Homo sapiens: one gene and its partners. The protein of the gene in region 2 interacts with the protein of the main gene of each other region in a biochemical or structural test. Each region holds a gene or a part of one and is shown on either strand. Other genes may lie near its edges.

Region 1 (7,992 bases), on a different chromosome or scaffold from region 2:
ATCCCAAATCCACGGTGCTTCTCACCAACAGCAGGGCAGGAGAGCCGGGTGCCCTGCTCCTCACTCCCTCTTAGGATACCCGAGTTCTAGCTCAGTCTCCTGCCCACTCCCCACATCGAAGCCTACTTCCTTCTAAAATGCCACCAGGAGATCGCTGCACACATAAAAGCTCTCAACTGCTCCTTGCAACCCCAGGAGTGTGCATAGGAGGCCTCTCACCAGCTGGGGGTCATCTGTGGGGCCTACACCAAACCCTGTACATGCCACTCAAACTCAAGTGCTCACCTCCCCTGCCCAACTCCGCCAGGAGAGAATCTAGTATTCCTGCAAACTCCTATCTCTGGCCCAGCATCTCTTACAAGGCTTTCTATCTCTTGACAGACCCATCTTCCCTTTGAACGCCAGCATCTGGCAGCGTCTAAACCCTATGGACTCAGGAAAGCCTGCGATTGTTGAAAAATTCACAGCCACATGGTCACGTTCCTTGGGGAGGCCATTTCTCTCTGGGTCTCTGTTTCCACCTCAGTAAAAGAGAAAACGGGCCAGGTGCAGTGGGGCACGCCTGTAATCACAGAACTCTGGAGGCCAAGGTGGAGGATCACTTGAACCCAGGAGTTTGAGACCAGCCTGGGCAACACAGTGAAACCCCATCTCTAAAACAAAATACAAAAATTAGCTGGGTGTAGTAGTGCATACCTGTAGTCCCAGCTACTCAGGAGGCTGAGGTGGGAGGGCCTGAGCCTGGGAGGTCGAGGCTGCAGTGAGCAGAGATTGTGCCACTGCACTCCAGCCTGGGCGACAGAGCAAGACCCTATCTCAAACCACCCCTTTGTTCCTTCAGCCTGTACTGAGCACTTCCTACCAGAGCCACTGTTGGGTCTTGGCATAAAAAAGAAAAAATGTAGAATTGAGTAAGACGACAGCTCTCAAGGATCCTCCAATCTGGGGCAGAGCTCACCCGCATTTGGAATCATTCACCCTTCTAGGAAGATTTAATTATAAACCTCAGCTCAAATCCTTGGCGTGCTTACAGCTTTCCAGGCACCCAGTTAAGTGCTGTACATGCGATAGCTTATTTTAGGGGTCAGCAAAGGTTTTTCTGAAAAGGGCCAGATTGTCTTCAGCTCTGCAGGCGTTAAGTTCCCTATGGCAACTGTTCAACTGTGCCTTCTTAGCTCGAAATCAACTACAGGTAACGCATAAACCAAGGAGTGTGGCTGTGTTCCTACAAACCTTCATTCACAAAAACAGGCCAGAGGTGGATTTGGCCTTCTGGTCAGTTTGCTGATACCTTGCCTGGTTTAATCCTCACACACCTGAGGTGGTTACTATTATAATCCCCATTCCACAGAAGAAAAACTGAGGCTTGGAAAGATGGGGACCACCCGAGACCACCCAGCTCCGAGGATGAAAATGAGGAGTTCTGAACCCAGGCAGTCTGACTTGAGAAGCTAAACTCCAAAGTACCCATTTCTCTCTGCACGAAATTGGGTGCACACACAAAACTTTGTACACGATTTCCCGGGCCCACACAGTCCCAGCTGCCCATGCTGGTGAAGAATCACTGATCTAGGGTAGATTTTTTTTTTTTATTTTTGACAGGGTCTCGCTCTGTCGCCCAGGCTGGAGTGCAGTGGCATGATGTTGGGTCACTGCAACCTCTGCCTCCTGGGTTCAAGGGATTCTCCTGCCTCAGCCTCCTGAGTAGCTGGGATTACAGGTGCACACCACCATGCCCAGCTAATTTTCATATTTTCAGTAGAGACGGGGTTTCACCACGTTGGCTAGGCTGGTCTTGAACTCCTGACCTCAGGTCATCAGCCCGTATGGTAGGGTTTTTAAAGCATTATTGACATTTAAAGCTGGATCATTTTCTGGGGTGAGGCCGTCCTGGGTACTGCAGGGTGCCGAGCAGCAACCCTGGCCTCCACCAACTCCAAACCAGGGGGTCCCCCAAATCATGACAAGCACAAATGTCACCAAGAATCCCTGGGGCACAGAATTGTTCCTGGTTGAGAACCACTGGTCAAGGGAGGGAAAAGGCAGACAAAAGGAATAATCAGAGACAGAAACAAAAGAAAATGGGACAATCATTCAACCTCTGAAGGGCACACTACACTGCAATTTTCTGGCACCTAATAACAAAAACAGCTATTCTCAAGCCAGCTCTCTCTTATCAAGTTCCAGGCACCTGATCAAATAATTGAATGTGGGTTTATCCTCATAATGACCCTCCGAGGCATCTGCTTTTACAACTCGTTTGCGAAAGAAGGAACAGTTTGCTCAGAGAGGGAAGGCGACTCACCCAGGTTTACACAGCGGGTGGGAGGTGGTGGTGGACGGTCCTGAATCCCAGATTTCCCCCACCTCTAGCACGATATGCAGAAGAAGACTCTAAACATGATATAAGACGAACGCCTGCTAATTCTTTGGAGTTCTCAGATTCCGCTGGACCCTGCGGCTCTCCTTCTCCTAGGCAGGGACTTTTGAACAACGCCCGTTTTACAGAGGGGAAAACTGAGGCTCCGAGAAGCCAAGAGGCTGGGCAAGGTCACCCAGGTAGGGACTGGCGGCGCTGGAACCAGAGTTCCGACTTCAGTCCCCACAAACGGGGGTCCCTGAGTCACAGGGACGACGTTTCCAGGCGGTTAATAAGAGCGGAACGGCAGCGAACACCCAGCGAGCGCTCACTACATGCGGGGCGCCTTCCCCTCCCGCCGTCCTCGCCACCAGGCCGCGGACCAGCATTTCCAGGACCTGGGGCCTGGGGAAGGGAGATCAGGGCTCGAAGGGCCTGCCCGATGGCGCCCGGCCTCAGTTTCCCCTCCGCACCGCCTACTCACAGGACCCCGCGGGTCGCGGTGACCCTGGCCTCACGATCCCCAAACTCTTACGAGCTTTGGGGCCCCGTGGGCCCCGAGCCGCAGACCCCAGACCCACCAGGCTCAGCGCAGTGCCCCTCACTCACCTCTCAGGCGACCGATCCCCGACCCACCGACGGTTGCGCTTGCGCACCGCGGTGCCGCCCGGCCCCGGCCCCAGGGCGCGACGCCTGCGCAAAAGAAAGGCGCCCGGAGTTGCTTCCCTTCTGCACAGGCGCGTTAATGATGGAGGCGGGCGTGGAAGGAAGTGACGCAACGTAGAGGCGGGAACCAGCTGGTTGTTAGGGCAACTGACCTCTGCGACCTAATGGAGGCCGGAAATCGGGTCTGGTTTGCCCTCTAGAGCGGGAATGAAGCGGTGCACGGTGGAACAGTGGCTGACTCCAGCCGGTCGCCGAGCTGACCACGTGGTGCTGGGCCGGCCACGTGGTGCAGCCGCGTTTGGACACCTGGACTCCAGAGCGTCACAGCTGCGCAATGAATGGGAGTCAGTGTTACCCGCTTACTATCTTTGTTCATTTATTCACCCACCCATCTACTCACCCACAAATGCATTCTTTCATGCAGTGTGAGACGTTTGTGAGTATAGAGCCATTTGTAGACAGCAGGTGCCTAATATTCATTCAATATTTATTGCAAAGCAGCCATAAAAACCAGCAAAGTGTCTACTCTCATTATTTTGCATTGGGGTAGACGGACTATAAACTAATAAACTAGTACATAAATAGAGAAACAAATTTCACAGCAAACACTAAGAAAAAAAAAATGAAGGTAGTGTGATTGTCACTGGGAGCTAAGTCGCATGGGATGGGTAGGAAAGATCATCCTTTACATTTGGATTTCAAGGATAGGAAAGTCCAAACGGACCCCAGGCACAGGGAACAGCGAAAATGAACGCCGATGTAAAATTAATCTTGGTGTTGCTCAAGACATGTGATGAGACATTTCCAAGGACGACAGAAAACTGATCACCATCTAAGTTACAGTTGCCAGAAATGTTCTCCCAATTCATTTTCGTCCTACTCAAAATACATGCACGATTAATGGCGTGGATTATTTTAATTTCTTTTGCAGAAATAAAGGAGGTGAGGCCGGCCGTGGTGGCTCACGCCTGTAATCCCAGCACTTTGGGAGGCCAGGGGGCAGATCACTTGATGTCAGGAGTTCGAGACCAGCCTGGCCAACACGGTGAAACCCTGTATCTACTAAAAATGCAAAAATTAGCCGGGCGTGGTGCGGGCATTTGTAGTCCCAGCTACTCGGGACGCTGAGACAGGAGAATCGCTTGAACCCGAGAGGCAGAGGTTGCAGCGAGCCGAGATCGCGCCATTGCACTCCAGCCTGGGCGACTGAGCGAGACTCCCTCCAGCCCCTCCAAAGCAAAAGAAAACAAAACAAAAACAAAAAAAGGGAAGAAAGGAGGTCGGTTGTTTTGGTTTTTGCCAGTTTAATTGTAGTACATTGTTTTTTCTGGGTGCCCTAACAGTTCAAGACAGATGGTTCAAGATGTTTTTTGTTTTAACCCACAACACTGCATGTAGGTCAGGCTACTGCACTGTTCCACAACACCTGTTATTTGACATGAATCCGTTTACTTGCTTTTGTTTCTGACAAAAAAAAAAAAAAAAAAAAAAACTTGGCCCGGCGCGGTGGCTCACACCTGTAATCCCAGCACTTTGGGAGGCCGAGGCGGGCGGATCACGAGGTCAAGAGATCAAGACCATCCTGGCCAACATGGTGAAACCCCCTCTTTACTAAAAATACAAAAATTAGCCGGGGTGGGGGCTGGCGCCTGTAGTCCCAGCTCCTGGAAAGGCTGAGGCAGGAAAATTACTTGAACCAGGGAGGCGGAGGTTGCAGTGAGCCGAGATTGCTGCTACTGCACTCCAGCCTGGGCGACAGAGCGAGACTCCGTCTCAAAAACAACCAAAGCACCAAAACTTCTGGTTAATTTAATTGATTCGTCGGATTCAGATGCTGGAAAGTGGGCCTGGGATATACAGTAAGCGATCAATAATAACACTGGCCCAACACACAGCTATAAGAAGCGAGGCAAGTACACATTAACGCGGTAGCCTGAAGCCCAAGCGAAGTCTCAGCGCAATGAGCCGCGCAGAGGCTCAGAGGCGTCAGCGGCGTGCGCGGTTTCCAAGGAAACCGTCCGTCCTAGCCACCCCAGCGGCTCTGGAATGGTAGAGCAAGAGGCTCCGCCCACGCACCGCCGAGACCAATAACGGACCGGGAGGGTTACGGCGAGTGCGCAGAGGGCTCCAGCGCACTCCCGGCCCTCCTCCTTTAGCTGTGGGCGGGGCTCAGGGGCGCGTGCGTCCTGCCCTCCCTGTGCGCGCGCCGCCCCAGCATGCCCCGGGAGCGCGGGCGGCGGGCCCCTTGGTCCTCAGGCGGCCGTGGCGGCGGTGGCGGCGGTTGGGCCGAGGCAGGCGGCCTCAGTGGCCGAGGTGGCTGGACGCGTAGCAGGTGGAAGGAGGGAGGGAGCCGCAGGCGCAGACCCACCCGCCATGAAGCCCCCCGCAGGTACCGACTACCCCGCTCGCCGGACCCGGGCGTCCCCTGCACCCTCGCTCCTCCCGGGGTCGCGACTTGGGCCTAAGGCTGGAGCGAAGCGACCCCCGAGCCACCCTCGGCCGGGCTGGAGGGGCAGCGGGGGAGGTGGACGACCCTGCTCTCTCGTTTGCCGAATGAATGAACCAGCTTTTCCAGCGCTTCATTCATTCTGCAAAGTTGATGGCGCTTCCCTTCCGGATGGGTCGGGCCCCGTGGCGGACCCTGGGGAGGCCGTGATTTAACGACTCCAGTCCCGTTTTCCTGGAATTCTAGAGCCACAGACAGACATTCAAAAATTAAATAAGAGAGGATCGAAGATAGGGAGGGATCGGTGCTCTGGTGCAGATAAACACGAACGGGGCAGTCCCAGGGACACGTTTTTAGAGAGAGGGTGGTTCCTGGGGGGCTTTTCTGAAGAGGTGAGCGTCGACTTGCTTGATTGGGAGAAGCAAGTGTCCTGCCAAGACCGGGGAAGGAGGCGTCCCGGGAGGAGGGAACGTGTTTGGAGAGCAGAAAGTCAGTTTGGCTGGAACGTAACGAGGGGACCTTTTAATTTTGTTATTTATTTACTTTGTCTCCCAAGCGGGAGTGCAGTGGTGCGATCACGACTCCCTGCAGCCTCGAACTCTTGGACTCAGTCAATCCTCCCGCCTCAGCCACCTGAGTAACTGGGACTACAGGCCTGCACCACCACACTTGGCTAATTTTTTGTAGAAACGAGGTTTCGCCATGTTGCCCAGGCTGGTCTTGAAGTCCTGGGTTCAAGCAATCCACCTGCCTCGGCCTCCCAAAGTGCTGGGATTACAGACATGAGCCACTGTACCCAGCCAAGACCCTTTTAATTTAGAGGCAAAGGGGCGATGTGACCTGTGTACTGTTTATTTATTTATTTGTTGGTTTATTTTTTGAGACAGTCTGTGTCTCCCAGGCTGGGGTGTAGTGGTGCAATCTCTGCTCACACAGGCTCACCGCAACCTCCGCCTCCCGGGTTCAAGCTATGCTGCTTCAGCCTCCCAAGCAGCTGGGATTTCAGGCGCCCACCACCACACCTGGCTAATTTTTTTTTTTTTTTGGAGATAGAGTCTTGGTCCGTCACCCAGGCTGGAGTGCAGTGGCGCGATCTCGGCTCACTGCAAGCTCCGCCTCCCAGGTTCACGCCATTCTCCTGCCTCAGCCTCCTGAGTAGCTGGGACTACAGGCGCCTGCCACCACGCCCAGCTAATTTTTTTTGTATTTTTAGTAGAGACGGTGCTAGCCAGGATGATCTCCATCTCCTGACCTCGTGATCCACCCGCCTCGGCCTCCCAAAGTGCTGGGATTACAGGCGTGAGTCACCACGCCCGTCACACCTGGCTAATTTTTGTATTATTAGTAGAGATGGGGTTTCACCATCTTGGCCAGGGTGGTCTCGAACTTCTGACCTCAAGTGATCCGTCTGCTTCGACCTCCGAAAGTGCTGGGATTACAGGCATGAGCCACCGTGCCCGGCCTGGGTTTTAGAAGGTCACTCAGGTTGTTGAAGCAACTCCTTGCCTGATCCTTGGCTTTTCTCTTGCCCAGCCACACTCCCCCAGCTCTTTGTCCAGCCCATTGCGATGAGGGTGATAATTGTAATAATGATAGTCAGGGATATTCAGGCCTTGGGAAGGAAGGAATGTTGTCTGCCTTGTTTGCTACTGGATCCTTGGCACAATCAGTAAATATTTACAGGATGAACTGACGTCCACAAGTTTTTCAAATCCTAACTCCTGCAGGAGAATTTTCTGACAGTTCCAGTTCCCATCCATCTCCATCCTTTCTGAGCCCCTGAAGCTCTTCTTTACCCCACGGTTTAATGTAGATCCACAGTCCCTTTTTTGCAGTTCTAAAATCCTAAATACTCTGTAAACTGAAAGGTTTGCCTTAAGTTTACAGCAAAGTCATTTGGCCAGAAAATGACCTCAACTGACCGACTGAGAGCCTTTCTTTTTCCCACTTAGCGAATATCATTGATTCTCAGCTGGGGTGATTGTGCTACCTCTGGGGACACTGGACGGTGTCTGGGGACATTTGTGGTTGTCACAGTTGGGGGGCGCTCCTGGTATGGAATGGATGGAGGCCGGGGACGCTGCTCAGCACCCTGCAGTGCCCAGGACAGCTCCACCCCAGAAAACGATCCGGCCCCAATGGCCACAGTGCAGACAGAGAGACACCCTGGTGCGTATTCCTGCATCTCACTGCAGAAAGAGTAATTTGATTTCGGAGTGCTGCCTCAGCCTCCCTAGTGATTTGGAATACATGGCACTTGGACTCTATTAATACTGTTCTACAATGGGGGGAAATTCTGAATGTTAAAATGTCCCCGGCCCCAAGACTTTTTGGACAGGAGAGCATGGTCTGTAATAACAGCTACCTCTTGAAAACTTTCTGGTGGTATTCAGGATACAAGATGTTTTGCCTTCATACCTCACTGAATTCTTAGACAGTTCTTGTTCTCTGCACCCTGAATTGTTCCCGTTTTGCAGGTGGGAAGCCTGAGAGTTAATGTTTCTTGCCAGAATCCCAGAAC
Region 2 (7,109 bases):
CGGGGAAGGGAGGGGCTTCGGTGGGGCGGGGCCCTGACAGGCCGAGCTCGCGGGCGACTGCCGGCCAGGCAGACGCTGCAGCTAAGCTGCGCGGTGGCTGTGGCAGGTGAGAGCCTCCGGAAGGGAGGCGGCCTCTGGCCCCGACCCTGCTCCGCGATCGCCCACTCGGGCGCCCGGCCGGGCCTGGCAGGGAAGGGCCGCCGCCGCCGCCGCGCGTTTGCGAGGCCTGGCGGGGCCGCGGGGCCCAGGAATGGCGTAAGGGGCCCCCCCAGACTCCGAGACGGCCCGAGCGGGTCGCCGGCTGTGGGACGGCGGCGTGCCCTTCCTTTCCTCCCTCCCAGGTTCGCGCCCGAGCTCTGCTAGCCACCCGTCCGACAACTTCCGGACTCCCAGGTAGGGAGGAGCCCCTGTTAGCACTGCCAGTTACCCCGAACACTTGGCCGTTTTGGAAGGGCCGGGACTCCCTCCCCTGCCTTGTGGGTGCATCTGCTCAAACTCTGTCGGCCCCTCAAGCAGAAATGGTGTGGGATCTGGGCCAAACCCCTCTTGGAGTGACTCAGAGCCGCCAGCCCTACTGGAGGGATGGGGCATGGGGTGGATGGCCCCTAGCCTTTCCCTTCTGAGCTGGTTTGTATCACCCCGGTGGCTTCAGTCCTGGTGCCTTCATCTTAGCTCCTGTACTTTGCCTCTCCCACCCCACTGGTTTTCCTGCCTCCCTCTTCAGAGGTAAGACACATGGCTGGACCAAGGCCTCCAGGGTAAGTGACCCGAACTTCAAGCCAGCAGAGGCCATGTCATCCTAAGCTAGGGATAGGGGAGGCTCGCCGGGATGAGCCTTTGGCTTAACCTAACCTCTGCTCCCTACTTCTGCCTCACCCCAGTCTCAGATGACGGGAGGCCAATGCCAAAGACGGATAGGATCTATAGAGGCAGTCCTCTTCTAGGACTGGGACACAACAGTGCATGAGGCAACTGACAGGGGTGATGTAAAGCTGTTGTGTCTCCATCCTGGTTGCCCCAGTTCTAGCAGGTGATGTGACACTACGGTGGTCGCTGCCCAGATTGAGAAGTGGAAGGGGGTGTTGCTGGCCGCTAGAAACACTCATAATTCCACTGAGTTTGAGGCTCTGGTAGGGGCGCATGTGGGCATGGGAAGGAGCCCTGCACTCTGAGCACAGCCTCTCAGATGTAACGCAGTGGCTCTGGGAGGTCAAAGTCTCAGCCCAGTGGGAGCTCTGACAAAAGGAGGAGAAACCCCCCCAGTAGACATGTGGCTCTGTCTGATCCACTCCTGCCGCCCCTTCTGGCAACTTCCCTGGGGAGGGAGGACCTGCTTCCCAGCAGGACCTTCATCGAGTCACTGTAGGGGCAGGTAGAGTGGGCCAGGGAGCCACAGCTGAATGGCACTCAAGGGCCATCACTAGGCATTGCCTCTCCATTCCTGAGTGTGGGGCAAGGGTCCCTGCTGAGTTTTACTCTTAGCAGTGGGCTTCCAGATCCCCATGCTCCTGGGTTCTTGACTGCCTCCCTCTTCAGAGGTAAGACACATGGCTGGACCAAGGCCTCCAGGGTAAGTGACCCTCACCAGCTGCCTCTCTGTGTCCCTTACCTCCTCAGGGACAGCCCTGCCATCAAGGAAGACAGCACAGGACTGGGACCCACCCATGAACCCTTCTCAGGACAACCCAACAGCACCAGTGGGGATGTTCTCCTAAGCCGCAGAGGGCCTGGGCACGCCATCCGTCCTCCAGGAAGAGCCATGGTGTTAATGCAGGACAAGGGCAGCTCTCAGCAGTGGCCTGGTCTGGGGGGCGAGGGTGGTGGCACAGGTCCCTTAAGCATGCTCAGAGCTGCCCTGCTGCTCATCAGCCTGCCATGGGGGGCCCAAGGGACAGCCAGCACCAGCCTCAGCACTGCTGGGGGTCACACCGTGCCACCGACTGGGGGCCGCTACTTGAGCATTGGAGATGGCTCTGTGATGGAGTTTGAGTTTCCTGAGGACAGTGAGGGCATCATCGTGATCTCCAGCCAGTACCCAGGCCAGGCCAACAGGACGGCGCCTGGCCCCATGCTCAGGGTCACCTCCCTGGACACAGAGGTGCTGACCATCAAGAACGTGAGTGCTATAACCTGGGGAGGCGGGGGTGGCTTTGTGGTGAGCATCCACTCAGGCCTGGCTGGGCTGGCCCCACTCCACATCCAGCTCGTGGACGCCCATGAGGCCCCGCCCACACTGATTGAGGAGCGGAGAGACTTCTGCATCAAGGTCTCACCTGCTGAAGACACGCCTGCCACCCTCAGCGCCGACCTGGCCCACTTCTCGGAAAACCCAATCCTCTACCTGCTCCTGCCTCTTATCTTTGTCAACAAGTGTTCGTTTGGGTGCAAAGTGGAACTCGAGGTTCTGAAGGGGCTCATGCAGAGCCCCCAGCCCATGCTGCTGGGCCTCCTGGGCCAGTTTCTGGTCATGCCCTTGTACGCTTTCCTCATGGCCAAGGTCTTCATGCTGCCCAAGGCCCTGGCTCTGGGCCTCATCATCACCTGCTCGTCGCCTGGCGGCGGGGGGAGCTACCTCTTCAGCCTCCTTCTTGGAGGGGACGTCACCCTGGCCATCTCCATGACTTTCCTCTCTACGGTGGCTGCCACTGGCTTCTTGCCTCTGTCTTCGGCCATCTACAGCCGCCTGCTCAGCATCCATGAGACGCTCCACGTGCCCATCTCCAAGATCCTGGGGACCCTGCTGTTCATTGCCATCCCCATAGCCGTGGGCGTGCTGATCAAGTCCAAGCTCCCCAAGTTCTCCCAGCTGCTGCTGCAGGTCGTCAAGCCCTTCAGCTTTGTGCTCCTCCTGGGCGGCCTCTTCCTGGCCTATCGCATGGGGGTCTTCATCCTGGCAGGCATCCGGCTACCCATCGTACTGGTGGGTATCACGGTGCCCCTGGTTGGCCTGTTGGTGGGCTACTGCCTAGCCACGTGTCTGAAGCTGCCAGTGGCCCAGCGGCGGACGGTCAGCATTGAGGTAGGGGTGCAGAACAGCCTGCTGGCCTTGGCCATGCTGCAGCTATCCCTCCGCCGCCTTCAAGCTGACTATGCCTCCCAGGCCCCCTTCATTGTGGCGCTGAGCGGCACCTCCGAGATGCTGGCCTTGGTCATTGGCCACTTCATCTACAGCAGCCTGTTCCCAGTTCCCTGAGGCCTCTGGGTCAAGCTTTCATCAGCCCCAGCCCCCACACTCCACCAAAGTTCTCATGCACTATGCACTCAGAAAAATCCAGGCTTATTTTTTTTACTGATTTTTTATTCTCCAGCTTTCAGTGCCAAAGAGGCCATGCTGAGTTAGGTAGGTGGGCGCTGCCCAGAAAATATATTTCAATAAAAGAGAGAAGCAAGCTTGGGTCCCTTCTACTCTTTGCCCTTTGGGGCCTGGGCGTGGGGGTAGAAAGAGTGTGCTGGGTAAGTGTGGACCAGGGTGGAGGGCCAGCTTGGGTGACACGGTGACCCCTGCATAGGCTTTCCCTATCAGCCCTCCCCGGGGGTGTCCCCACTCTGGGAGAGGTGGGAGGATGAGGGCAGAGGCGTAGCCCCCCTGCCCCCTCTCAAGCTCAGTGGAGCGTTTCGCAGCCAGACCAGAAAGGAGGAGGTAGGAAGCCACCAGACAGGGAGCGGGGGCGGGCCGTCTGTGGGTATGCAGGGCCAGGCGCCGCCAGCAGTCCTGGCGCGTGAGGTGGGCCAGGCAGTCCGCGGGGGCGAGCGTACCTTCTGGCCCTCCCTTCTCCATGTCCCAGCTCCCAGATGACGCCAACCTGGCCCGACTGGTTCCTGCTCCCAACTCCCCCGCGTCGTTGCTTTGGGAGGGGTCCGCCGGCCAGGGCGGTCGATGCGCGCATGCTAGGCGGGACCCCGGGGGGACTCCTCCCGGGGCGCAATTGGGCCGGGGGGCGGGGCCGGGGCGCGGACGGGGCAGGAGGGCGGGGCCGGGAAGCGCGGGCGGCGGGCGCGCCCCTCTCGCTGCTTCCGGCGGCGGCGGGCGGTTCCAGCGCGCGCCCGGGGCGGCGGCGCGCGGCGGGGGGTGGTTGGGGTGCGCGCCGGCCCGAGTGGACGCCGTCGCGACCGCCATGCAGCTGACGGTGAAGGCGCTGCAGGGCCGCGAGTGCAGCCTGCAGGTAGGGTCCCCGGGCCGGGCCGCCGGGTCCGGCGCGCTCTCTCGCCCGCTCCTGGCAGGGGGACCGGCAGGGCCGAGGGCGGGCACGGGGCGGCCGGGCCGAGGGCCGGGAGCCGGGAGAGCTGCCCTCGGGGGCGGACGCGTGGGCTTCGCCGTCTGGGGGCCGCGGGCTCAACCCTTGCCTCCCACCCTCCGCGCGGCCAGGTGCCAGAGGACGAGCTGGTGTCCACGCTGAAGCAGCTGGTCTCCGAGAAGCTGAACGTCCCAGTGCGCCAGCAGCGGCTGCTGTTCAAGGGCAAGGCCCTGGCAGGTACCCAGGGAGAGGAGACGCCCGGGGAGCCCCGCAGGAAGCGGGACCGGGGTGCGCGGGCCGAGGCCAGCAGCCGTGTGTCGGGTCGGGGTGCGGGCGCCAAGCGCCACATGACCCCAAGGGAGGCGGCCGCATGCCTCACAGCCGGATGCCGCAGCGCTCCGCTCCCGCCGCCCGAGGCGGCCTCGCGCCCCGGGCCACCCCCACGGCGGTGGAGGAGGAGGAACCCATCGATCTGTCTTTGGCAGATGGGAAACGACTCTCGGATTATAGCATCGGGCCCAACTCCAAGCTCAACCTAGTGGTCAAACCCCTGGAGAAGGTGCTACTAGAAGAAGGCGAGGCCCAGAGGCTGGCCGACTCCCCACCCCCGCAGGTCTGGCAGCTGATCTCCAAAGTCTTGGCCCGCCACTTCAGTGCGGCAGATGCCAGCAGGGTCCTGGAACAGCTACAGAGGGTGAGAAGGGTAACCCTGGGCATCCTCTTCAGGCCCAGTTGCTCCCAGCCCCTACCTCTGTTGCAGTGTATGCCCCCCCACCACTGGCAGCCCCTGAATCTTCCTGCCCTTCTCTCCCCAGGATTACGAGAGGTCCCTGAGTCGCCTGACGCTGGACGACATCGAACGGTTGGCCAGCCGCTTCCTGCACCCTGAAGTGACTGAGACAATGGAGAAGGGCTTCTCCAAATAGAATTCTCGGAGCATGGGGAGGTGCCCAACGCCAGGCTACCGCTGCATGTCGCACTAAGTGTGTTCTCCTGTTGCAGTTGGGCTCATCATCATCATAGCTGGCATGTACCTGGCTCTGGCCAGGTGCTAGGCACTCCTCACAGCTTGACCTGGGTTTGCTTCCACACCCTCAGAAGAGGAGAGCCGGCACAGCAGAGGCACCGGCGATGAAGTGGCACAGCCCCAGTCGGAATCCAGCGGCTTCTGAAAGTGCCTTGGTGTGAGAAGGAGGAAGGGGCCGCTTGGAGAGCTGGGCTCTCGCATGTCATGTTTAGCCCACTGAGAATATACCCTCAGGTGACTCCCTCCCGATCCTGAAAGGGAAAGCAGCTGTCACCTGACTTCTGGCGGGTCCAACATAGCCCTCAGCTTACCTCTGCAGGAGGCCAAGTGACAGCCAGCCCTGGAACCCCCCGACCCCCGCAGCTGCTGCAGCCAGTGTGCCAGTGTGCGTTCGACAAATGGAAAAGCAGATTGGGGCCAGGGAGTCAGCAAGGCACCCCAGCTCTGTGATGTGACTTTGGGCGAGTCTCAGTGCCACTTGGTCCCCAGCCATGGACTCTATACAGTGAGGGCCACTCACCGACCTGAGTCAGTGTCCTCTGTCTCACAGGGCCCCTCTCCCTTCTGTTCAGTAAACAAACTGAAGCCAAAAATGAAGCCGTGGCCAAGTGTGACCCAGAGATGGGGTGTCCTGGCCCTTAGTGACACAGCTCCTCTCTGGGGCACCCTATCTGCTTGTCTCGTCCAGGAAGCGTTAGGGCTGATGGGTGACTCAGCAAGGCAGTGTCAGAGCTGGGACTGGGCGTAGGCCTTTGTCCTCATCCCCAGCACTGGCCTCCCTGTGGAAGATGAACATATCCCAGCCACCTGTGTACAGGGGCTCACTTTGTGTGCTCCTTGTTGCCTGAGAAGAAACCTTGGGGTGCCAGGGTGGGGGCAGAAGCATGGACTGGGTTCCGGTTCATCCTCCTCCACCCTGCCGTGTGTGTGGGCACAAGAGGACATCTAACCACCTGCTCCTTGGAGGAGGCCCCCAGGGGTGGTAGAGGCTGGAAGGAAGCCACATCAGGAGGACGCCACTCCGGCCCTTCACCCTTGCCAAGTGAGCTGCTCACAGTGTGGTCAGGGCTGCGCGTGCTGGAGGCCCTCCTGCCTGGGCCTTGTGGGGCAAATATTGGGTCCCCAGGCTGGAAAGATGGACAGAGGCCCAATGGGTGAAGGCTTTGAAGAGCACACAGAAGCCCCTGGCCCCCCACGAGAGCTGGAGAGCCATGTATATGGCTTCAAAGCCACCTACGGCAGGGACACACTCGTGAGCATGTGTGGCCTGCAGTTCAGGTGATACATTTACCAGTGTTCTTGTTTGTGTGGTGCCAGGAAATTGATTTTGGAAAAAGTGAAATAACATTAAAGGTGAATGTGAGGCTTCTACTTTTATCCAAAAGGAGCTATATTAGCTAGGCTGTTTCTGATATCCAATCATTGGTTTAACAATAAAGGCAATTTGTTTAATCAGTTAACGGAAATTTCTTGGCTTATGAAAGTGAAAAGTCCAGTGGTATTGGCATTGGCAGCAGGTGAGCAATTTCACCCAGTGTCTTCTGCCTCCCTCTGCGTTGGTATCTGCTACATCCCAGGCCACCACCTCCGAGGATGAAAAGATGGCTGCCTGCAGCTTCCACGGAATCCCTCCCTCACTGCCAGAGCAGCATCTTCTCTGTGTACCACCTCTGCTGTCTCAGATGCCCCCAGCAAATAAACACTCTTCTCGTTGGTCAGAACTGGATTGTGCGTCCAATCATTTTGGCTGGGGTAGGGGGTAATTCTCCGTCAGGGCTGGCTCCCTGGAGCTAGGCATGGGGCCACTTCCCTGGACACACATGGGCTATGCAAGGGACAGAAGGCTC
Region 3 (7,150 bases), on a different chromosome or scaffold from region 2:
CCCACCAGATGCCACGGGGAGCGAATCGCATCACTAAACCCACTTGGCAGGTGAGGAGACTGAGGCCAAGGCTGCCCAGCAGAGAATGACCCAGCTGCGCGGGGCCTCAGCCTGATCCCAGAGCCCAGGACAGCAAAGGAGGCCCGGAACGGCCCAGCTGCCTGGGAGAAGCCCTCGTGGGCAGGCACACAGCCCATGGCAGCCAGTCCCCCCTGCGTCAGAGGCAGGCAGGAGCTTCCCGACAGCCAGCCCAGGTGTCTCAGCAGCAGCAGTGCCGCCCCTGACTCAGCCGCCGGGCAAGCTCCCCAGCGGCAGAGACGCCCCGTTTCGAGGGCACTGGTTGTGGCTGGGGACTTTCCCCATTGCCAGATACGGAGCAGCCGTCCCTCCCCAGAACAAACGCCAGGTGTGCCCATTTCCCAGCATAAAAAATTCGTTTTTGAGACAGCGTCTTGCTTGTCACCCAGGCTGGAGTGCACTGGCACCATCACGGCTCACCGCAGCCTCCACCTCCCAGGCTCAAGCGCTCCTCCCACCACCTCAGCCCCCGCCAGTAGCTGGGACTCCAGGAGTGCAACAACACACCCCACTAATTGTTTTAGTCTTCTGTAGAGACAGGGTCCTGCCACGTACGGAGAAGTTCTGACACTGCCATGCTGTCTACGGGCGCCTTGTTGCGTCCTGCTCCAAAGGCACAAGCAGATGCCCTTGGGATCACCCGCGGGGTGGACACGGGCAGGCCCCCGCAGCCCTCTCTGCAGTTATTTGCTCTTAAGGAATCTACCAACGTCCATGATTAAATATTTGTCAATCACTGTTCCATGCTGGCTCCCTGGCCAGCCTGTAAATTCTGTGAGGGCAAAGACCACAGCGGCCTGTCACCACAGAGTTCCTTTCACTACAGGAAGGCCCTCCCCAGGCCCAGTGACAGTCGGAGGAGGTCAAGGTCCTCCGTGTCCAAGGCCACGGGGCGAGGAAGTGGCTCCACCACACCAGGATCCAGTCCTGTGCGGGCTCTAGGAGCAGCTAAATGTGCAGCCGAGTCAAGGCAGTGTCGGCCCCCCACAGCCACCACTCCAGGCTTCCCAGGGGCTTCCCAGGCCTGTCCCAGGGCTCAAGGGGCTGCAAGGGGCTGCCCTGCAACTCACCCAGGCTGGCGGGCTGTCAGGCAACCAGCCTCTCCTGCCACGGCCAGTGGGGACAGAAAGCTGGAAGAGGCAAGAGCGAGACCCCTGGGAGACAGAGGAGTAAGGCAAGGCTCAGTCTCAGCTCCCCAACCTTCGCCCCACACCCGAGATTTCACTTTATTTGTTCCTCCTGCTGGGGAGGGGAAGCCCTGTGGCTTCAGTAGAGAGGAAACCACACCTCTCTCTTTCCACTCCTGGGCCTGGCCCCGCTCTCCCGCCATGCCCCAACTCTAGCACTCGCTCCTCCTCTGTGACCCAGAGACAGGCGGCTTCTCCTGACTCCCTCCAGCCCCTTCCTGGGTCTCTACTCCCGGGGAACTGCACTGCTTCTGGGGGGCTTGGACTTCTCTTACGGGTCAAAGCGTAGCAACAGCCGGGCGGCTACGTACACAGCACAGTAAATCCTCAATGCCTGCAGCCTCTTCCCCTGGGCACAGGGTGGGGAGTCCAGACCCCTCCACCTCCTGCGGCTGCTCCCCTCAAGCTGGCCAAGCGGCTCCCGACTGAGCCGGCTCTGCCACTTTCCCGCTGAGCCACCACGCGCCTCAGTTTCCCCATCTATAAAGCACGGGTGGCTCGACTAAATCACCACTTTGCACGTCAGCCTGGCGAAGGGCAACACGGGTTAAAAATGCAGACCACCGCCGGGCACGGTGGCTCACACCTGTAATCCCAGCGTTTTGGGAGGCTGAGCCAGAAGAATCGCTTGAGCCCAGGAGTTCAAGACCAGCCTGGGCAACACAGGGAGACCCCATTCCTAAAAATAATATTAGAAATGCAGACTGCTGAGCGCATTCCACACCTACTGACTCCGAAACCCTGGAAAAGGGGCCTGGAAATAGCACCTTCAACGAGCGCTGCTCCCACCTCCCCCAAGGTGACATCAGGTCCGCGTGGGAAACACTGCCCTAAACGAGCAGGAAGTAGCACTCGGCACGCCCAGGCCCAGGGTCCTCTTCGGTGAGGGGCGGCTGTAAACACCTGGAGGAAGGGTGGGCTGCGCAGCCAAGCCCCGGGAGGGGAGGAACGCAGGCTCTGCTCACAAAGCCCCGCCGGCGGGCCGCGGTCGGACCCCGGGACAGTGCCTGGGGCGTTCCGGGCCTGGGCCTGCCTCCAAGGCGGCGGCCAGGGCTCCACGAGGCGAGCCTGCAGCGAGGCGCCGGCGCCCCCAACCACGCGCTCGGCGGGGGTCCCCTGGCGTTATTCTCGGGGTCCGAGCCCCGCCAGGCCCAGCCCCTGCCCCGCGCCGCGCCACCGGGCAATACCCTCTCTCTGCTCGCCGGGCCTCAGTTTCTCCGTTTGCAAAACCAGGCTCACCGGGCTTAGGGATCCCACCTGGGATCCTCGCGGCCTCTCGGGTCGGGAACGCCGCGGATGTGGGGTCACCCGGCCGCGATCCCGCTGCGCCGCTCCGGCCAGGCCCTGCCTCCCGCCCGGGCCTCAGTCTCCCGCATGTACAGGACGGGGTTCGCGCGCGCACCGCCCGGGCTCCCCGCGGATTCAGCCTGGGCCGGCGCTGCCCCGAGCCTCAGTTTTCCCGTCGTGGTCAGCTCGCGCAAGAGGCGGGCGCAAGCGACCCCCACCCCGGCCCCGGCCTTGCCTCAGGCCTGCGGCGCAGACCCTGCCGCCCGCCGCCCCGGCCCGGGCCTCACCGGCAGGCGCGGGACGATCTCCACGGAGCAGCAGTGGCAGAAGTACCGTCCGGGATGCGGCGACGCCTCGGCCATGGCCGCCGCCACCTACTCCGCGCCGCCCGCCCCCCGCGCGGCACCCGCCGCCGGCCGTTTGCTGCTCCCTCGCCGGCCGACGCGCCCGCGCACGCTCACGCACGGCACGCACGGCACGCGGGGCGGAGCGGGGGCGCGGGAGCGGCGAAAGCTGCGTACTCGGCGGGCAGCGGCCCGGGCGACGGTGGCCGCTGAGAGACAAACTAGGCCCGGCCGTTGGGCGGGGCTCCAAGCGGGGGCGGGGCTTCCGGCGGGGGCGGGGCCAAAGCAGGCGGCGGAAGAGACGAGAAGCGGGGCGTGCGCGGGGCGGGGCCGAGGCCCTCCTCCCCTCCCGAAGCTGCCCAGGCCTTCGTGTCCCTCAGTGCTTCCCTACCTCATCGCCGTCTCCCCTCACGGTACTTCAGCCCACTGTCCCCACCGTTCCTGGGGCTCGCCAGGCGCCCTCTCCCCCGCCCGCTGCCCGGTGCAGCGCTCTCCCGACGCCCGCGTGGCTTTCTTCCAGGTCTTTGCTCAAATGTCAGCTTACAAGGTCTTCTCTGCTGCCCTCCTGCTCCGTGGCACTGATTCCCTCCCGATGCACTGTCAGGTCAGCTGCGCAGCAAAGGGATTTTTGGACCCGCAGCAGCGCCTGACACACAGCAGGCATTCCCTCAGCGCTGCGGAATACAGGCAGACCCGGGGCTCAGGGCGCTGTCTGGGCCTCACTGGGACCCGTGGGGTCAGACAGAGGCTGAGGTCTGTGGGTTGTGGCCTTGTTTCCAAGATGCTCCACGGGCTGACGGCCCAGGCGCCTCTCGGGTGCGGAGAAGGCAGGAAACCTAACCCCTGCTTCCAAATTTAATCAGTAGAAACGGTATCATCACCCAGCACAGGCCAGGATCATTTCTGAGGTTAGTTCTGGCCCAATCATGCATGCATTTCTTTTTTCTTTTTTTTTTTGAGACGGAGTCTCACTCTGTCACCCAGGCTGGGGTGCAATGGCCCGATCTCGGCTCACTGCAACCTCCGCCTGCCGAGGGTTCAAGCGATTCTCCCGCCTCAGCCTCTCGAGTAGCTAGGACTAGAGGCACCCGCCACCACACCGGCTAATTTTTGTATTTTTAGTAGAAACGGGGTTTCACTATATTTGGCCAGGCTGGTCTTGAACTCCTGACCTCGTGATCCGCCCGCCTCGGCCTCCCAAAGTGCTGGGATTACAGGCATGAGCCACCGCGCCCGGCCTCATGCGTGTATTTCTTTCTTCACTCAACACTCATTGAGCAACTACTGCACACCAGACCCTATGCTGAATGCACGCAGATACCCCCAGTCCCATGAGATTGGACAGGAGCGTGGAACTCAAGGGTGACTCTGGCTCTGCCTGGGGAAAGAGAGAGAGGGCTTCCGAGGGGTAAGGACATTGGAACCAGGGCTGAGGGATGAATAGGATTTGGTTGGAGTTGGACTTCCTGCAAAATGAGGCATTGGAGCGAGACTGTTGAGGAATTAAGAGTTGGAGCCTGTGCATTTAGATTTTTTGTTTGTTTGTTTGTTTTTTAGAGATGGAGTCTGGCTCTGTTGCCCAGGCTGCAGTGCAATGGCGCAATCTCGGTTCACTGTAACCTCCGCCTCCCGGGTTCAAGTGATTCTCCTGCCTCAGGCTCCCGAGTTGCTGGGATTACAGGCTGGGCACCACCACGCCCGCCTAATTTTTGTATTTTTAGTAGACGGGGTTTCACTATGTTGGCCAGGCTGGTCTCAAACTCCTGACCTCAGGTGATCCGCCCGCCTCGGCCTGCCATAGTGCTGGGATTACAGGCGTAAGCCACCGCGCCCGGCCTGCATTTAGGGTTTTGAATGTCCAGAGGTTGGGGACAGGGGCTTCAGCCTCCTTCCAGTCGTCTTTGCAGCAGCGCGAATCCAGTCATTCCTGCTCTGACCACCAGAGAGCGCACGGGCCCCGTCCCTGGGAATCCAGGAAAACCCCAGGCTGGGGAGGGGCGAGGCTTGCCAGACGCAGCCCCTGCACCAGCCTTCACGCTCCGCAAGTGCAGGAGGAGCAGCAGGCCTGGTTCAAACGACGCCAAACCACGAACTGGCTGTGTGTCCCTAGGCAAGTGGCCTAACCTCTGAGAAGGCGGCAGAACCTGACGGTTTTCCGTTGGCTCGGAGCAGACATGAGGACCGCTGGCACCTCCTCAGCCCTCTCTGTGCTCTGCTGCCTGCCCCGAGTCACCTGCCCCTCGCTGACCCCTCCCCAGCCTCACTGGCCCCCTTGGGTGGGCTAAGCAGGTTCCCACCTCTGGGCCTTGCAAGGCTGTGCCCTTCCCCAAGTCCCCTCTCCTTCCCCTGCTTTTTTTTTTTTTTTTTTTTTTTTTTGAGATGGAGTCTCACTCTGTTGCCCAGGCTGGAGTGCAATGGTGCGATCTCAGCTCACTGCAACCTCCGCCTCCAGGGGTCAAGCGATTCTCCTGCCTCAGCCTCCCGAGTAGCTGGGATCACAGGCATGCGCCACCACGCCCGGCTAATTTTTGTATTTTTAGTAGAGCTGGGGTTTCGCCATGTTGGCCAGGCTGGTCTCGAACTCCTGACCTCAGGTGATCCGCCCACCTCGGCGTCCCAAAGTGCTGGGATGACAGGCGTGAGCCACCGCGCCCGGCCCTTTCCCCTGGTTTTTAGGAGGCTGCCCCATCCACCACTGCACCCCACTTCTCAGAGCCCCCTTTCCATCCCCCACAGCCATCCTCACATCTGTGGGTTATTAATGGCGTCTCCCCATATGTGAGGCCAATACCCAGCGCACCAGTAGGTGTTCAGTAGATTCCCAAATGCACCAACAGTTGCCGAGTGTCTACTGTGTGCTGGGCTCAAGCAGGTGCTGGAAACACAGTGGGAATGAGAAGGAACGTAGGGATTTTGTATCAAACTAAGCAGGGCGAGGTGGCTCACGCCTGAGACCAGGAGTTCAAAACCATCCTGAGCAACATAGTGAGACCCTGTCTCTACAAAAATAGAATTAGGCCGGGGACAGTGGCTCATGCCTGTAATCCCAGCACCTTGAGAGGCTGAGGCAGGAGGATCACTTGAGTCCAGGAGTTGAAGACCAGCCTGGGCTACATGGTGAAACCGTGTCTCTACTAAAAATACAAAAATTAGCCAGGTGTGGTGGCGGGCACCTGTGATCCCACCTACTCAGGAGGCTGAGACAGAAGGATCACTTGAGCAGGAGGCAGAGGTTGCAGTGAGCTGAGATCGGACCACTGCACTCCAGCCTGGGCCACAGATGGAGACCCCATCTTTTTTGTTTTGTTTTGTTTTGTTTTGTTTTGTTTGAGATGGGTCTCCCTCTGCCGCCCAGGCTGGAGTGCAGTGGCATGATCTGGGCTCACTGCAAATTCTGCCTCCTAGGATCAAGCGATTATCCTGGCTCAGCCTCCCAAGTAGCTGGGATTACAGGCATGTGCCACCACGCCCGGCTAATTTTTGTCCTTCTAGTAGAGACGGAGTTTCTCCATGTTAAGTAGGCTGGTCTCCAACTCCTGACCTCAGGTGATCCGCCCACCTCAGCCTCCCAAAGTGCTGGGATCACAGGCGTGAGGCTAATCGTTTTAAATTTTTATTTTGTAGAGATAGGATCTGGCTATGTTGCCCAGAGTGATCTCCAACTCCTGGGCTCACGGGATCCTCCCACCTTGGCCTCCCAAAGTGTGGGGATCACAGGTGTGAGCCAGAGTGCCCGGCCACCCCTTTATCCCAAACACACCAAAAAGCAGGCTGCTCTTCCCTGAAGGCAGTAGCACATTGATCAAATCGGCCAGTGGGCACTGACACTGCTGCACACAAATGCACACACTTGCACCCTGCCCCAGGCCCCACCGGCCACCCTGGTTCCACAGACGGCACCGTTTCTCCCATTTCCTCTCACCAGGGACCTCGACAGGTGTGGGCTTGGTTCCGTGAGCTCTCTTAGCCCCTTTTTCAATTCAGGATCCCGTCCCCGTGAACCCTGGGGGCCTCGGCAAACATGAGACGAGAGGACTCCTAAAGGAATGACACGCGCCACTCCCTCCGGGGCAGAGAGGTGTGTTGACAGCTCATTCTCACGTCCCAGGCAGACCAAGCCCAGGTGGACCACGTCCCAGGCAGACCAAGCCCAGGTGGACCACGTCCCAGGCAGACCAAGCCCAGGCGGACCACGTCCCAGGCGGACCACGTCCCAGGCGGACCACGTCCCAGGCGGACCAAGCCCAGGCGGAC
Region 4 (7,000 bases), on a different chromosome or scaffold from region 2:
AAATGCAATCCAGGCACAGGTTTACCACTACTACAACGTGATGTCAGCATTATGCAAGGAGAGGCAACAGTCTGAAAAGAAGGCCTAGAGCTGCAACTCCTGAGGTCACAGGCGGAGATTAAAAAAAACAGTTTGGGAGGTTAGAAGCTCCTGTTTGTGACTTCAAATGAGGGTTGAATGTGAAAGAAATAAAGGCTGTGAGAGTGAGATTAACTCAAACCAAGGTGCAAGGTCCATGTGGACTGGGTAAAGACAGGGAAAAACAAGGCCCTGGAGCGGGTTTAACTGAGGGGCAGCACTGTAGATGCACATTTATCTGGGACTCATGAGACTACTTCAGGTCACTAATGGGTTGAAGGTTCACTCATACAGCTATGATCTGAAACCAAGTGACAGATCTTGTACCAGACATAAAATGATTCACTTCGCAAACAAGGAAGCTGAGGGAGCTAATTCAGTCCTGGCCCGGGGTGGAAATAGTATAAACTACTCAGAAAGAAGAGCTCCACGAACCAGAGTAAGCTGGGAGAGACAGAAGGAGACTAGAACAGAAAATATCTAGAAAAGACCAGATTTTATTGTTTATGTATCAAGGTTTCCTTGCACTGTGAACAAAACAGTCTGCATAGGTGAAGTGACCCCATGTTAGCAGTAAGTAAACACTATGGGGTTGGGAAGAAAGCTCCCCAGGAGACAACGATTCTGCATCTCTTGGCTGCTGTAGAAAGTTCTTCAAGAAACAGGCAATGGGGGCCTGATCTAGAAGTCTTCCCAGAAGAGCTACCCTGACCATGCCTGCTGTGGCTCATTCACATTACACAATTCAAAGTTGGCAAACGTGGTGACTAAGCAAGCAAAAAGCTTGGCTAAAAACTCACATATTCAAATCGATCCTTGCAGAGCTGAACCATCAGGTGCAGAAAGACAAGTCCGGCAAACCAGAGGCACCACATGACCACCTCTTCCACTGTCTGGACATTCAGCACACCAAAGATGAAAATGAACTTGTAGAAAATAAAATTCCAAAATTTGTCTTTGAGATGCTAAAAAAGAAAAATGTTTATGAAGGTGAGTACCATCACACCTACCCCATTTGAGGGAAGTTACCATAACAAAAGCCGGCTTCTATGGAAGATATATTCTGCACTTGGCTTTCTAATACTTGTCCTCAAGAAAACAGAAAAAAAAAAAAAAAAAAAAAAAGCAGCCATCTGAAGAATGGAGGTAAGACACCCAGAAACTAATCTGTAAACTTTGGACTATAACCCTAAATCAATTATGGAATGTTAGCTATTCAAAGGATAGCGATATTAGTTTAGTAACTTATATATTAAGAAATAGGCCAGGCGCAGTGGCTCATATCTGTAACCCCAGCACTTTTGGAGGCTGAGGTGGGTAGACAGCTTGAGCTCAAGAGTTTGAGATGAGCCTCGGTAACATGGGGAAACCCCATCTCTACCAAAAAAAAAAATACAAAAATTAGCTGGGAATGGTGGTGCACACCTGTAGTCCCACCTACTCAGGAGGCTAAGGTGGGAGGATTGCTTGAGCCCAGGAGGTCAAGGCTACAGTGAGCCATCATCATGCCACTGCACTCCAGCCTGGGTGACAGAGCAAGACCTTCTCTCAAAAAAAAGAAAAAAATGCTTACATTTTTAATGCACAATGAAAAAGAATGGCAAGGGCTATCATTTTTACTACTTCTACCTTCCAGATTCTTACACAATAGAAAAGATTAGACTTTGTAAAAAAAATTCTTCAAATTAAAAAATAACACAACACAACCACTTGCCAGCCCATAATAAAGGCGGCATAAAAAGTACAAAGAAAATGAAAAATGCTGCCTTAACATTTTTATGAATTTTCTTGTCTTTTCCCTATGTACAAAACACATTACTTTTTGTACAATGCTTTCTTTCACCTATTGTATTGTTAGAACCTTAACAATGTCAATGAATATTCTCTGAATATACCAATATACCGTTTCAATGGCTAAAGATGGACACTGAAACTGTTTTAAAATTTTCACCACGCAAAAAAAACATTATAATGAGGGCCGGGCGTGGTGGCTCATGCACGAAATCCCAGCATTTTGGGTGGCCAGGGCAGGCGGATCACTTGAGCCCAGGAGTTCGAGACCAGCCTGGGTAACATGGCAAAATCCTGTCTCTACTAAAAATACAAAAATTAGCTGAGCATGGTGGCACAAGCCTGTAATCCCAGCTACTTGGGAGGCTGAGGCATTAGAATTGCTTGAACCTGGGAGGTCGAGGTTGCAGGGAGCCATGATCATGCCACTGCACTCCAGCCTGGGCAACAGAGCAAGACTCTGTCTCAAAAAAAAAAAAAAATTGTGATGAATATTTTTGTATGTATCTTTGTATGAGTTACTTCAGCACTGTCAAATCAAAAATTGCAAAGATTTTTATGGTTTATAGTAAAATCTACCTAACTTCCAAAGCAGTCCTGTAAGTGTACATTCCCATGGGCAGTGTGTATGCATATTTGCTTCACTGTACTCTTTTACACAGAGGGCTTCCAGTTTTAACAATCTTCACTAACCCTGAAATAGGAGAGCAATAAGGAGGGTCTAGTTCCCCCACATGTTAAAATAGACTATCAAGCCGTCTAGGGGGGTCAGGGAGAACTGACTGAAGAGGATAAGAATGGAAGCATGATTCTAAGTATACTTTTTTTTTTTTTTTTAAAGAGACAGAGTCTCACTCTGTCATCCTGGCTGGAGTGCAGTGGCCCAGTAGTAGCTCACTGCAGCCCCAAACTCCTGCGCTCAAGCGATCCTCCCACCTCAGCCTTCTGAGTAGCTGGGATTACAGGCACATGACATCATGCCCGGCTAATGTTTTTTATATTTATATTTTGCAGAGATGGGGCCTCCCTCTGTTGCTAAGGCTGGTCGCAAACTCCTGGGCTCAAGTGATCCCACCTTGGTCTCCCAAAAGAATGCTTTTATATGTAATTTGGAACCATGTAAATGTTTCACAAATTCAAAAAATAAACACAAAAAAGCAAAATATACTACAAATTAACAACGTGACTCCTTAAAGATTTTGAGAACTTAAACACACTGTACTCTGACCAGATATCTTTTGTAGAGAACAAAATAAAGTGGAAAAAAATCATAGAGTATGCCCTAATTCTATCCATCAAAAGGGCAGAGACACCCTAGTGGTAATGAGCACACTCAGCCAGTATACAGCTTGGCTTCTAAATATCATTGCCCAATAACGTGAACTAGGAATCGTTGGTGAAATGTCTGTTTCCAGACCTGGTGCAGGGAAAGTACAAGGTGAACTTAGGACATTTTGTGCCCTGGTTTTGAATGACACTGCCACTTGGCTCTGCCATTTAGTTTCTGTGTGACCTTGGGAAAGTCACTTAACATCCCTGTGCTTTAGTTTCCTCATCCATACAATAGGTCTTATAATAACAGCATATACCTCATAGAATTGTTGGGGGAATTATACATAATATATGTGAAATGGTTAGACAAGTGCCATACTAGGCACTAAGCACTTAAAAACGCATCAAAAAGCTTCCTTGCTCTAAACCTCCACTTAACATTTTAATCATTTTAGATATTCGATGTCTTTGCCTCTAGCATTACTCTATTTCTAGAACTTTAAGCACCCAAGAGCAAACCCATGTCAATCCTAGAGATTTCTAACTCAAAATGGTTCCTAATTGATGCTACTGGATGACATTAAACATAAATAAACCAACACAGAACAGCAGGGAAGATGCGATCGATGCTGAAAAAAATTAAAGTGGAGCTGGATAAGAAATATGCTCATTATAATTACCTCTGGATCTAGTTAAAAAATCTCTAAAATACTCCAAGGTTATACTTTCTATAAATTTCAACCTGATAGAAGTAACCTTTTAGGGAAAAGAAAGTATATAAAGCCCACTGGTGCCAGATCAATCCACCAAGCCTGCCTGGCCTGACCAATTTCTGGTCCACAAATAAAAAATTTGAAGAGAAACTTGAAGAAGTATCAAAAGAAGCATTTAAGCCAGTAGAAGTGGCTCACACCTATAATTCCAGCACTTTGGGAGGCTGAGGCGGGCGGACTGCTTGAACTCAACAGTTTGAGACCAACCTGGGCAGCATGGTGAAATTCCGTCTCTACAAACACCTAAACAATTAGCCAGGTGTGACACATGCCTGTAGTCTCAGGTACTCAGGAGGCTGAGATGGGAGGAGACTGCTTGAGCCCAGGAGGTTGAGACTGCAGTGAGTGGAGATCGCACCACTGCACTCCAGCCTGGGTGACAGAGCAAGACGCTGTCTCAAAAGAAAAAAAAAAAAAGGCAGCATTTACAACCTATCTGGGAGACCTCTAGAGTCGATACTGGAGAAAGTGCTGAAAATGAAAAATCTCTGAGAATACAAAATAGTCCTGTTCACAATGGCATCCAAGGGCTCAACCACCAAGTAATACATGTCAGCTCTAAACTAGGACTTCAGCTGATTTTATAAAAGGAAATTTGGGTTGAAAAGGGTAGGTAAGGAGAGAATGGAACACTCTGAACATAAAGTAAAGCTGCTGTTGTGCTTTTCATATAGTAGGTTCCTGTGTTTTATCACTGGGATAAGATAGAATAAAACACAATTTTGTTCTTATGTTGTGATTTTGAAGGCCAGTTCTAAATTTTTACTTTAAAACATACCATGCCAGGCACAGTGGCTCACGCCTGTAATCCCAGCACTTTGGGAGGCCAAGGCAGGCGGATCACCTGAGGTCAGGAGTTTGAGACCAGCCCGGCCAACGTGGCGAAATCCTGTCTCTACTAAAAATATATAAATTAGCTGTGGTGCACACCTGTATTCCCAGCTACTTGGGAGGTTGAAGCAGGACAAGTGCTTGAACCCGGGAGGCAGAGGTTGCAGTGAGCTGAGATTGCGCCACTGCACTGCAGCCTGGGTGACAGAGCAAGACTCCGACTCAAAAAAAAAAAAAAAAATTATTCTACACCCTACCCACTCAAATCCTCAGCGAACTGCCAATCTATACAGTATGCTTGTGGCGTAATTCTTCATTGAAAGCATCCCCTGCCCATTCTGAGTCACTTTCCAATGTCAGACAATCTCACCCAAAACAAGAACAAATCTCCTAATTTTATGCTTTTAGAACAATGATTCTTAATTCACCTTCCCACAGAGAAAATTATCTTGGTAAATTCTTTTGGAAAAGAACCCACATTCTACAGAGTGACATTTATGATCATTCAAAATAAAACAAATCTAGGCTTCTTTAAAAACGACATTCCTAAAAGTCATGAAGAAAAACAGCTATAAAAAACAATATTGGGACAACTTGGCTACACTGAATATGGACTGTGGATTAGACAAAGTATTTTTTCAATGTTAAATTTCCTAATTTTAATCACTGTGCTGTAAAAATGCCTTTGCTCTTAGAAAATACAAACTGAAGTATTTAGGGGTAAAGGGGTAATGATGTCCACAACTTACTCTCAAATGAATCAGAAAAAAAAGTATGTATAAATAAAAAGTGAAGATTAAAGCAAATGGAACAAAATATTAACAACTGGCGAATCTGGATAAAGGGTATATAGGAGTTTTCTGTAGTATTCATGGAACTTTTCCACACATCTGAAATCATAATACAAAGTTTAAAAAAAAAAATCTAGTCACAAGAATCCATCCTTTCAGTGTAGACTTACCTGTCTCTCACTCACTCGAAGAGGGCCAAACACAATACACTGGATGAGCTTAGCCACCAACATCAAAACACAGCAAGCGGTATTTACTAGAACCTGTAAACAAATCAGAGAAAGGAAGTTTATTTCTTCCTGCTGAAAAATAAAAGCAGCTCTAAAAATCTCATATTAGGAATTCAGCCATCATTTCCAGTGACTGAGCCTTTCTGGTTCTCTCCCAATGCAAGATAAGGAATATCTGAAAAGGCACACTGTTCTGGGGAGTGGGTGTTAGGGATGAGGACCGGAAAGAGAGGCACCAGCTCACCAGCTAAGTCACAGTTCTTGTCCCAATACGCACCCTCCAGCAGGCCACCTTATCTTTCATCCTTAACTGAATTGTGTGTATACTTTGTACTGTATGTGCAAAACTACATTAACCTCGTAAACTGCAGGTCCTTCCCAAGTACCTCATTTCCGACATTATTTTGACAGCCTTGAAGAAAACTGTTCTAGAAATTGAAGTTACCGTGAATAGTAAAACCCAGCACCCAGAGATTCTGCCCTGCCAAACAAATAGGAGGTAGGGGTAGGAGTGTGGATGGTCACAAAAAAGTCTCATCATAAGGAACTAATAATATAAATATATATATACAGAGAGAATATTTTAATATTTATTGGAATGGAAAAATCTTTCAACCAAAAGATAAATGTTCTCCATGCTTGGTGTTGGCTTTGAAGTAAAGGTTTTGTGGCACTGCAGCAGGGTGGAATGGGTTAAACAGAAGGAAAAGAAAACCGGCGAGAGGGGCCAAGAGATGAAAGGCAACCTGGGGATACCAATGCAAAACCAAGGCCTTCTTCAACAGTCTATGAGAAAACTTGAAAAACAAAACAAAACAAAACAAAACTCTAAATGATGAATATCCTTACACCTAAACGCCAAATCTTAATGCTTACAAAATGGAAGAGTTGGCTGTCCCCAACCCAGAGATTAGTGTGGGGTATCACATTACTCTGAATGACTCCAAAAAGCCAAAAGGACCTTGATAAAAACAGTACAGATGACTTGTTGAGAGCAAATGAAAAGGAACTCCAATTCAATGTAAAGCTGCTTCTGCCTCTGATTCACTACGTTTACCATATTACCCTTGCCAAGTCATTCTTCCCTCTACTTTTAAAAGCAAATGATAATTTTAAAGAAGAAAGAAAGGGGATAGAGGAGAGTAATTTAAGAAAGCAAGATCCCTGAGATCACCTCAGGGTCTGTTTAGTACCTCATGCCATCCCTCCTTTGGGAGAACACTTAAGGGCAGCC

Evidence for each region.
Region 1: the proteins of UBL4A (region 2) and SGTA form a complex in vitro, tested with the Homo sapiens proteins (3 studies listed by BioGRID, with this or other methods).
Region 3: the proteins of UBL4A (region 2) and RNF126 form a complex in vitro, tested with the Homo sapiens proteins (one study listed by BioGRID).
Region 4: of the proteins of UBL4A (region 2) and AMFR, one has a biochemical effect on the other in vitro, tested with the Homo sapiens proteins (one study listed by BioGRID).

Annotation. Positions count from the first base shown.
Region 1 is NC_000019.10:2,780,265-2,788,256, forward strand, and holds the start of SGTA (small glutamine-rich tetratricopeptide repeat-containing protein alpha), read right to left. Parts: upstream 3,010-7,992; 5' UTR 2,969-3,009; intron 2,484-2,968; exon of another isoform or gene 2,306-2,483; intron 1-2,305. Other genes in the region: THOP1 (thimet oligopeptidase), read left to right, coding at 5,399-5,414. UniProt on the Homo sapiens protein: Co-chaperone that binds misfolded and hydrophobic patches-containing client proteins in the cytosol. Mediates their targeting to the endoplasmic reticulum but also regulates their sorting to the proteasome when targeting fails.
Region 2 is NC_000023.11:154,483,591-154,490,699, reverse strand, and holds UBL4A (ubiquitin-like protein 4A), read left to right. Parts: upstream 1-4,084; 5' UTR 4,085-4,115; coding exon 4,116-4,163; intron 4,164-4,366; coding exon 4,367-4,472; intron 4,473-4,720; coding exon 4,721-4,929; intron 4,930-5,050; coding exon 5,051-5,161; 3' UTR 5,162-6,983; downstream 6,984-7,109. Other genes in the region: SLC10A3 (P3 protein), read left to right, coding at 590-726, 1,618-3,193. UniProt on the Homo sapiens protein: As part of a cytosolic protein quality control complex, the BAG6/BAT3 complex, maintains misfolded and hydrophobic patches-containing proteins in a soluble state and participates in their proper delivery to the endoplasmic reticulum or alternatively can promote their sorting to the proteasome where they undergo degradation.
Region 3 is NC_000019.10:660,208-667,357, forward strand, and holds the start of RNF126 (E3 ubiquitin-protein ligase RNF126), read right to left. Parts: upstream 3,008-7,150; 5' UTR 2,915-3,007; coding exon 2,840-2,914; intron 1-2,839. UniProt on the Homo sapiens protein: E3 ubiquitin-protein ligase that mediates ubiquitination oF target proteins. Depending on the associated E2 ligase, mediates 'Lys-27'-, 'Lys-29'-, 'Lys-48'- and/or 'Lys-63'-linked polyubiquitination of substrates.
Region 4 is NC_000016.10:56,408,546-56,415,545, forward strand, and holds part of AMFR (E3 ubiquitin-protein ligase AMFR), read right to left. Parts: intron 5,800-7,000; coding exon 5,707-5,799; intron 1,044-5,706; coding exon 879-1,043; intron 1-878. UniProt on the Homo sapiens protein: E3 ubiquitin-protein ligase that mediates the polyubiquitination of lysine and cysteine residues on target proteins, such as CD3D, CYP3A4, CFTR, INSIG1, SOAT2/ACAT2 and APOB for proteasomal degradation.